Homo sapiens: one gene and its partners. The protein of the gene in region 3 purifies or fractionates together with the protein of the main gene of each other region. This does not show direct contact. Each region holds a gene or a part of one and is shown on either strand. Other genes may lie near its edges.

Evidence for each region.
Region 1: the proteins of ZNF843 (region 3) and AMY2A purify together in Homo sapiens (affinity purification with mass spectrometry; one large-scale study listed by BioGRID and IntAct). This does not show direct contact.
Region 2: the proteins of ZNF843 (region 3) and AMY2B purify together in Homo sapiens (affinity purification with mass spectrometry; one large-scale study listed by BioGRID and IntAct). This does not show direct contact.

What each region holds. Positions count from the first base shown.
Region 1 is NC_000001.11:103,616,121-103,620,295, reverse strand, and holds the start of AMY2A (pancreatic alpha-amylase precursor), read right to left. Parts: upstream 2,870-4,175; 5' UTR 2,856-2,869; coding exon 2,688-2,855; intron 2,343-2,687; coding exon 2,196-2,342; intron 1,386-2,195; coding exon 1,188-1,385; intron 743-1,187; coding exon 512-742; intron 1-511.
Region 2 is NC_000001.11:103,577,243-103,580,128, reverse strand, and holds the end of AMY2B (alpha-amylase 2B precursor), read right to left. Parts: intron 2,640-2,886; coding exon 2,521-2,639; intron 2,410-2,520; coding exon 2,284-2,409; intron 819-2,283; coding exon 629-818; 3' UTR 595-628; downstream 1-594.
Region 3 is NC_000016.10:31,437,342-31,439,932, reverse strand, and holds part of ZNF843 (zinc finger protein 843), read left to right. Parts: intron 1-2,591.

The DNA of each region.
Region 1 (4,175 bases), on a different chromosome or scaffold from region 3:
CACGAGCCACCATGCCTGGTCCTGTTTGTTACACGAAATGTGCAAAATGGTTTTCTTATTCCTATTATCTCAACAGGTAATATTCTTATATTCTTTTATTTGATAAAGTATAGGCTACAATATTGAAAGAAGCATAATGTCAAAGATACCTGTTGTCCTGTGAAAATACTTACCTAATTTTTAGTCTTCTACATCAATGATAATAATAAGAGCTCACACTAATAAAACATTTAGTATCGACTGAAATTCCTTGATAAATATTAACTTGTTTCATTATCCAAAGAAAGTAAAGACATAACTATTATCAGTATCCTACATTCTGTGTACCTCCATAAAACATGTTGTGATAAAGAATTAGATATGCTGTATGTGAAGAAGAGGAGGTTAAAGAACACTGTTTTATGTAAATGTCTCATTCCTTATCCTACAGAAATTGCATTTTTAATTAAATCTTCCATTAATTTTCTAACGAATAAGATGATATTTTATAGGCATATAAGTATTGATGTACCTCCTGGTAAATGAAAGGTTTACTTCCTGCAGGGAACCAGTTACTGTTTAGATTATGCAGTTTGTCCAAAATTGCCTTTATGTCTCCAGGCCACATGTGCTTGGAAGCATCAAGTCTGAACCCTGCAACACCAATGTCAATGAGATGGTTCATATATTCGGCAATCTTAGAACGCACGTAATCCTTCTCCAGTGCAAGATCAAGAAGACCAGTCAGACGACAATCTCTGACCTGTTGAGGTAAAAATGTTATGATTGATTCATAAAACCTCATTTTTCTCCTGAGAATCCATTGGATTATTCATTTATTCCATGATTCCTCAAGAGATATTCTATAGTGACTTCCTTGCATTGGGCACTGGGGATGCTCACATTCTACTACAGATGTATCTTTGAAATATTTTCTAATAGAAAATAGAGAATTTAGGAAATAAAGTCGATGAGATTTTTAATTGGGAACTTCTTAGAAGTGGGCAAATGTGTATTGATTAAAAATCTTAAATCAATATTTGAAAGTTCTTAAATATGGATTTGAGTTTCTTAAAGTAGTCAAACTTGTTAACTTCTGTCCCTAAGAGATCTAAATTCCTATTTTAAATGAAATTCAATTAGCTACATGTCTACAAGAAAAGGCATATATTACTCTTTTATTCAGATCACTCTCGTAAAAAAATTACCTGAGTAGCATCATTGTAGTTCTCGATATCTCCACTTCCAGTTTTACATTTACCATCATTGAAATCCCATCCAGAATATGGGACTGCTGGAAAGTCCCTACTTCCAGGGTTGAAGTAACTTCCACAGGTACTGCTTGTTCCTGCACTCACAGCGTTACCACACATATGATTAATTACAGCATCCACATAAATACGAACCTAGAAAACAAAGTTTCTACTTCAGTGTGACTTACAGAGAGGTAGAAATTTAAAGCATTATTGATGCAAGTTTATAGTATGTTAATAAAACTCCAAAATATTTCATGATATCTTATAATTATTTTCCTACAAGATCAAAAATCAACTGTGAAAGGAAAGTAATGTGAACTAAACACCTACATGCCTTCTAGACACTTGGTCAAATATTTATAGGAATGATAAATTGAGAGACCAGAAACTACCATAAATAGGAGGAAATGCAAAAAGCCCACTTTGGGAAGACAAAACTCAGATGAGAGTGGAAAGGTTATTGTTTTGGAAATTTCAGTGGGTCACCAGGAGAAAGCCTGTACTCTCTATGAAGCTTTTGAAGACAAACAAGGTAGCTATTAATCTCAATTTATGCTCCTCATTAAATAGAGAAGCTAGCTATTCACCATGAAAAACCCAAGAATTACGGATGGAGACACAAGTCACCTAAAAATGATAGCAAACATTGTAACTGGAATTATACTTCCTAACCAGTAAATTGTTTCCGGGAAATACGAACAGTTATAAGGGTTAAAATTTGATGTTTTGCTTTAGAAGCAAATTCTGATTTAAACTTTAACTTACCTCTTTAGTAGATAGCACACACACAAATATTCACAAAAGTTGAACATAAATAAACAGTTAATTTTGAGTTTTAAATTATGAAGTAAAATTAAAAAAATAAAATACGGAAAATTTTCTGCTGAAAAGGAGCAAGAAAGAAGAGAGAGAAACCATTTTCCTGTCTGTTATTTTTAAAGGAAACTAGAATTCACTTACCCCAACATTGTTACATCTAGTCACCATGTTTCTAAATTCATCTTCATTTCCAGATCTTGTGCATAATTTATAGCTAACTGGTTGGTATCTTTCCCACCAAGGTCTGAAAGGGTTGTAAATTGCAACATTTTCATTTGGTGGAGAGACCTACAAATTAAACAGTCTTCATAAGTACCAAATTCTGTCTTACTGTGTATCATTGAATGTTCTAGAAACTAATCAATAGTATAAAAGATTCTTGAATCTTGGTATAGGCAGCTATCTCTTGAAAATATTAACAGCACATTGGAGGGCTCTTGGTGAAGAAAGATTATCTCAGAAACAAAATATAAAGTTGCCAAGAATACTACATAGATTTTCCCTCAGAAATCTCTTTTACTTAGAATACTTACCTGTGAAGTAAAATGTTGCCCAAGCTTCACAGATAAGATCAGAATACTATTTCCTACAAGCACAGTGAATTCCGCAATTGATACTATGAATCATACCCACCTGAACCCCTCCAAATCCCTTCGGAGCTAAATATCGCTCACATTCAAGAGCAATATCAACCCATCGCCATTCAAACAGATGAACAATAGATGTCCGTCCTTGTTGTGTATTTGGGGAATACTGAGCCCAGCAGAACCCAATGGTGAAAAGCAACAGAAAGAACTTCATTTTGCTTTGAAGTTGTCAGTGTCCTTTCCAGAAACTATTTATATTCCTGTAAGAAGCACATTTTACAAAGTAAATATTAGCATGAATAAATACTTGAGGGCAAACTGTTTATTCATAATCTGAAAAGGATTATCAATAATAATCCTAACAGGTAAAGAACATCAAAAAGTCTCTCATGGAAATCATCTAAATGACCTTTTAGATATTAATGTTTTTCTTAGGTTCTGGCAGCACTTTTATTTTTCCTTAAACAGTGACCTGTTGCTGGGGCCTAATGTTCTCACATAACAGTAGAAAACCAAAATTTGTTGTCATCTCTTTAAAGATCCAGAATGGCATACAAAAAAACTTTACATAAATTAAAAGGATGAATACTTTTACAGGTATAAATGCGAACCCCTTCCAACTCAAGGTAAGTAACAGCCCACGGTGCTCTGGTAGATAACGTAAGCTAAGAAAGGAAACTGGGTCCTATGGCTTGGACTTTCCAACCCTGACAGACTGACAGGACAGAAACAAGTGGTCCAGAAGCCCTTACCAGCCTCTAGACAAATCCCAGAACACTCAGCCCTGACACATTAATACCCTGTACAGATCAGAGACTGCTGGCCGCACAGACTCACCGAGCCAGACTGGTCTTCCACAAGCATGTTTTTAGCCATGAAGTGACCAAGCCACGTGTAGTAAAGACTGAAATCAAAGATATGTACAGATACCAAGGGCAACAGTTAACTTGAATACAAGGTCAAAATCAGCAACACATTCTACAATCCAGTGCTGATATTGAGAGGAGACAAAGACCCTCTCCTTGTTTTATATTGTTTTCTATTCAGTAAAAACAACCAGGAAGTACAACCAAAGACATGCAGCCCAGCGCCAGGCCTGAAACCAGGCCTGGGCCTGATTGGCCTAAACCCAGTAGCTAAAAATCAACTTATGATTTAGAAGCTGATATTATTCACAGATTCCAGACATTGTATAAAAGAACTCTGTGAAACTCCCTGCCCTGTTCTGTTTCTCCCTGACCAGCAGTGAATGTAGTCCTTGTCACGTATCCCTTGCTTGCTCAAATCAATCACGACCCTTTCATGTGAAATCTTTAGTGTTGTGAGCCCTTAAAAAGGACAGAAATTGTGCACTCCGGGAGCTCAGATTTTGAGACAGTAGCTGGCCGATGCTCCCAGCTGAATAAAGCCCTTCCTTCTACAACTCAGTGTCTGAGAGGTTTTGTCTGAGGCTCGTCCTGCTACAATGTCAGATACAAGCTTCAAGGACAACTTCTTTCCAAAGGCTTATTCCAGTTTGGTGCGGCTAGCATGT
Region 2 (2,886 bases), on a different chromosome or scaffold from region 3:
CCCTAAATAAATATCCAGATTGTAGAATAAGAAAAAGAACAAAAAGTCATATACAACAAGTCTAAGCAATTAGGAAAAAAATGAAAAAGAAGGAAGTCTATAAAGTAGGAGAAGATTCCAGTGAGCTCAATAGAACTGATAACTGTAGATTGTATAATTTAGGTTTCTTCTATTTTTTAACCTTATTAACACCAGAAGTACTTGCATATTATAAAAAGCATACAACCGGGCTAACTTTGCATGGGAATCAGCATTAAACCAGCTATCCCTAACTAACTGATAAAAACACTCCTTGGAAGGATTATAGAATGGCAGAAATTAAAGGTACACAGCTCGGTAAATGATGCTAATGGCAACAAACATATTGGTTGAGATGCTTTTCTGAGTTCATAGCTTAAATAGGTTAAAGTCAGTCTTCTAAAGCATAACAACTTGCTGACTATTATTATCTTACACTTATTCAACAATTAAGTGGGATTTTAATACTATTGGTTTTTTTGTGAATTTTACAAGTTGATTACTAATTAGAGCTTTTACTAAAAATTAATGAAATATAAGTATTACTGTATATGTAAGAAAAGAAACACACTTGGCTATTGTTTTGAGGATATGCATTTAATTTTAAATTTTATAATTTAGATTCAGCATGAATTGCAATAAATGGATCCTCAGCAGAGTTACTAATAGAAAAATGAGCTTTGCCATCGTCAGAAACGTAGATTTTAATGCCTGTGCAATTGCCATTAATTTTATCTCCAGAAATGACATCACAGTATGTGCCAGCAGGAAGACCAGTTTGCAAAGTTAAAGAAAATGTCCTGTAAAATAAAATTTCAGATTTAACTTCAATACACTGAAAATCAAGAATACAGGCTAACACAACTAAACAGCATAACTTTATGTTGTAGAACCCTAAGCAGTGAAGTCTCATTAAGAAGAAAACCCATATGCCTCCCTAGTAGTTGTAAATAGCTTTCTAGGACCAAAAGTAACCTTACAGAAAATGTAGCAGTTCCCTGGTCCGTAGTGAAAATATTACCAAAAAATCAAAGTTGAAGAATATCACTGAAGATTGGCAGGAATGGTCACACTTTGATAAAAGTGCTAGCTTGTTAAAATCAAATTTGTTCTCAACTGAACTTAATACAAATTACTTTTAAAAATTTAAAGGGTTACATAAGTATACATGTGCCATGCTGGTGCGCTGCACCCACTAACTCGTCATCTAGCATTAGGTATATCTCCCAATGCTATCCCTCCCCCCTCCCCGTACCCTAAAATTTAAAGTATAATTTAAAAAAAAATTTTTAAAGGGTTTTATTTTTTTAATCTCCTTTTTTCCCCATAAGGTAAAAAAGAATTTGGGGCATACATAGAAACAATCTAGCATTTCTATGAAGAAGTGATAGTTTGAAATATAAAGCTTTCTCACAAAAATTTATTTTGGTATTTTCATCCACAAAAGAAAGAAATTAAAGAACTAGACATGGGCTTTTTTGGCAGGAAAGAGATCAACTAGATTTATGTATTTATGTATTTATTTATTTTTCATCAGTGAAATATAATTTATACTAGAATGAGCTAAGTATGAGTATCAGTTGGCTTTGGACAGAGACAATTCAACTGTTTGCAACGAGGTCTTCTGAGCTATAGGTTAGGGAATCATTTATACTTCAGTAAAGGATATAAGAATCACAGATGAAAGGCCAATAATGAGAAGTTTCGGAACTAAAACTCAAATCCCCTGAAGCCAATCATTAACCACAAGATACATATTATTTATGCATATGCTTTAAAAATATTATTTGTCACAAGGAGACAGAGAAGTGAAGAAAGTATACCAAAAAACTACATAGAGCAGTCATTGAGAAAAAGAGTTAGAAATAAAGATATATTAGTACTCAGGCAGCATTTTTCCATGATTAAAAAAACAGGAATATAAGACATGTTCTTTTAATGATTTCACAATCCTCATATTAACTACTTTGTGTATTTTGTGGCATGTGTAGGTGAGCATATGTATGTGCATTCAATATATGCATAAGATATTGCAAGGGTGCACAGAAAGGACTCTGCTTACAACAGAAAGCCCTTAATAAAACAGGAGAATGAAGGAGTAACAGCCATCATCTTTTTACTTCTGCCCAATTTTGATGTCTATTGTCTTCTTGCTCCACTGACTACATGATTTTTCAGATATGATAAATGTCAATGAACAGAAAAAAAGGAATAAACCAAGAGCATACAGGTACAAAATATTATTTTTAATTGATATGTACTTACCAGTCATCATTGTTGAAAACAATGAATCCTCTGTTTCCTCTCCCAAAAGCCACTTGGTTGCTCCCATTATCATACCAGTTTGTAAAAGGCTGGCCATCCACTACATTGCGGAAATTAACCATGTTCCTAAAAACACAATACCATATAAAACGTTGATATTCTTAAACTTCAACTGTTTTAAATAAAATGCAATGGAAAGTTTACTATTAGAGGACATGTCTAAATACATATTCTCACCTTATTTGGCGCCATCGATGTTCACAGACCCAGTCATTGCCACAAGTAGTGTCTGGATTAATAGTAACTTCTTTAATTACTCCATTATTATTTGGTGGCCCAACCCAATCATTAACATCCTTAATTAGGGGGTGAAAAGCCAAATTTTAACATACATATATTTACCTCTTCCTTCTCCTTTAAACCAAACCCAACCTATCCTGTTACTTGTGTCTCTGCATTCAATGACTTTATCTAGAATCCAATGCCTTCAATAATTTTTATAGCCCTTTACTGGGTCTTCATCATCTCTCTATCCTCTGGTTCTCTTTTGCCATATTTCAAACAAAGGTAACAAATTGTTATCCTCTCCTTTTCATTCCAAGG
Region 3 (2,591 bases):
TTACATCTCAGAAGAGGCTTAGCCTATCTGTGCTGACACTTACTGAAGTATAAGTTATATATAAAACACACCCACTTTAAGTGTACAGGTTGCTGGTTTTTGGTGAATGTGTACACGGGCATAACCATCATCACATTCAGGGTGCAGAACTTTGCCGTCACCCTCTCATGCCCCGTGCAGTCAGCTGCTCTCTCCCTGACCCAGCCCCAGAGAACCACTGGTCTACTTTCTGCCCCTATGAGTAAGTTTTGCTTTTTGTAGAAATGGAATTTCACAGAAATTGAATCATATAGTATGTATTCTCTTGTGTCTGGCTTCTCTGGTTTAACATAATTTTGAGATTCATCCATTGCTTGCAGGTAACAGCAGTTCCTCTTTGTTGCTAGTATTCTGTTACATGGGTAAACCACACTTTATTCTTCCACCCATTGATGGACATTTGGATGTTTCTATCTTATGCCTATTATGAATAAAGCTGATATGCACATTTGTGAAAAAGTCTTTGTGTGGACATATGTTTTTATTTTCCTTGAGTAAATCCTAAGAGTAGAATTATTGAGTCATGTGGTAAGTGTACATTTAATTTACTGTTAACCAAAACTGGTTTCCAAAATGCCCAGGCCATTTTATATTTCCCCAGCAATGTGTGAGACTCCATATCCTCAGGCAACAGTTAGCACCTTCAGTCTGCTCGATTTTAGTGGGTGCATAAGGGCACTCCTTGTGGTTTTAATTTGCATTTCTCGGGTGACTGATGATAGCACATCACTTTTTTTGTATCATTATACTTTTAAGTTCTAGGGTACATGTGCACAACGTGCAGGTTTGTTACATATGTATACATGTGCCATGTTGGTGTGCTGCACCCATTAACTCGTCATTTACATTAGGTATATCTGCTAATGCTATCCCTCCCCCCTCCCCCCACCCCACAACAGGCCCCGGTGTGTGATGTCCCCCTTCCTGTGTCCATGTGTTCTCATTGTTCAATTCCCACCTATGAGTGGGAACATGCGGTGTTTATTTTTTTGTCCTTGGGATAGTTTGCTGAGAATGAGCACATCACTTTTAAATGGTAGCTCACTTCTAGGGAAGGAAGGAGAGCGATGAGTCAAAAGAAGTTCCACTGTTTTTGAGCTTAGGTGTCCAAGAGAATAAAACTGGTGCCACCAACAAAAGTGAAATTAGGAGTCAGTGATTTTTTGGCATAGGGGTATTAAATTTGAAGTGATGGCAGGATGTTAAGGGGGAAATAACTGGGTGGCAGCATGCTTTGCAGGCTTGGAGCTCAGTGGGAGGTCAGGTCCTGAGATAAGAGCCAAGTATCCGCTGAGAGGTGAAGCACAAACGGGGAGAGAGAGAGAGATGAGACCCAAGGATCAAGCCAGGGCTCAGAGTGGCCAGAAGCATCTGTTCCCCAGTCCCCATTTCCAAGTAATGGAAAATCCAGACTGACAGGCCTAATAGGCCTAAAAATAGATAAAATTAGCCCACTTATATATGAGCCACTGGAATACTTTCTAGTCCTATTGCAAACTCTACTCTTGGCTACTTTGATTGTTAAAATTGTAAATTAAAAGTTATCTATACCCTTTTTAAAAAAGAGTTTCAATATGGTTTGTGACAATCAGTTAATTATCTTTGTGGCCTGAGGGGCCCCCTTCTTTTAATCACCTTAACCAATAAAGCAATAATGTCTTTCTGAAGTTGATTCTTTTTGATGGTTTGTGTTTGGATGTTCAAGGTTAATGAGGAAATGATCCTTACCACGCTTTTGTAATTTTAATACAGACAGGGTCTTGCTTTGTTGCCCAGGTTAGTCTCCTGGGCTCAAGGATCCTCTGGCCTCAGCCTCCCAAAGTGCTAGGATTATAGGCATGAGCCACTGCGCCCAGCCTCTTGCTACACTTTCATTCAGGATAAAGATGGTAATATCCAAGACTACTGAAAGTCTTATAACCCCAATCCAAATTTTAAAATAAATCTTACTATTAAGAAGCATTGATTGGCCATGTGCAGTGGCTCACACCTGTAATCCCAGCACTTTGGGAGGCTAAGGTGGGTGGATCATGAGGTCAGGAGTTTGAGACCAGCCTGACCAACATGGTGAAATCCTGTCTCTACTAAAATACAAAAAAAAATTAGCCGGCAATGGTGGCAGGCGCCTGTAATCCCAGCTACTCGGGAGGCTGAGGCAGGAGAATCGCTTGAACCCGGGTGGCAGAGGTTGCAGTGAGCCGACATAGCTAGCACCACTGCACTCCAGCCTGGGTGACAGAGCAAGACTCCCTCTCAAAAAAAAAAAAAAAAAAACATTGATTATAGGAGGCCGGGCATGGTAGCTCATGCTTGCAATCCCAGCACTTTGGGTGGCCCAGGTGGGCCAACCGCTTGAGCCCAGGAGTTTGAGAGCAGCTTGGGCAACATGATAAAAACCAGCTTCTACCAAAAAAAAAAAAAAAAATGCTGGGCCTAGTGGTGTGCAACTACAGTCCCAGCTACTTGAGAGACTGAAGCGGGAGGATCACTTGAGCCAGAGAGGCAAAGGTTGCAGTGATCAGAGATCGTACTACTGCATTCCAGCCTGGGCA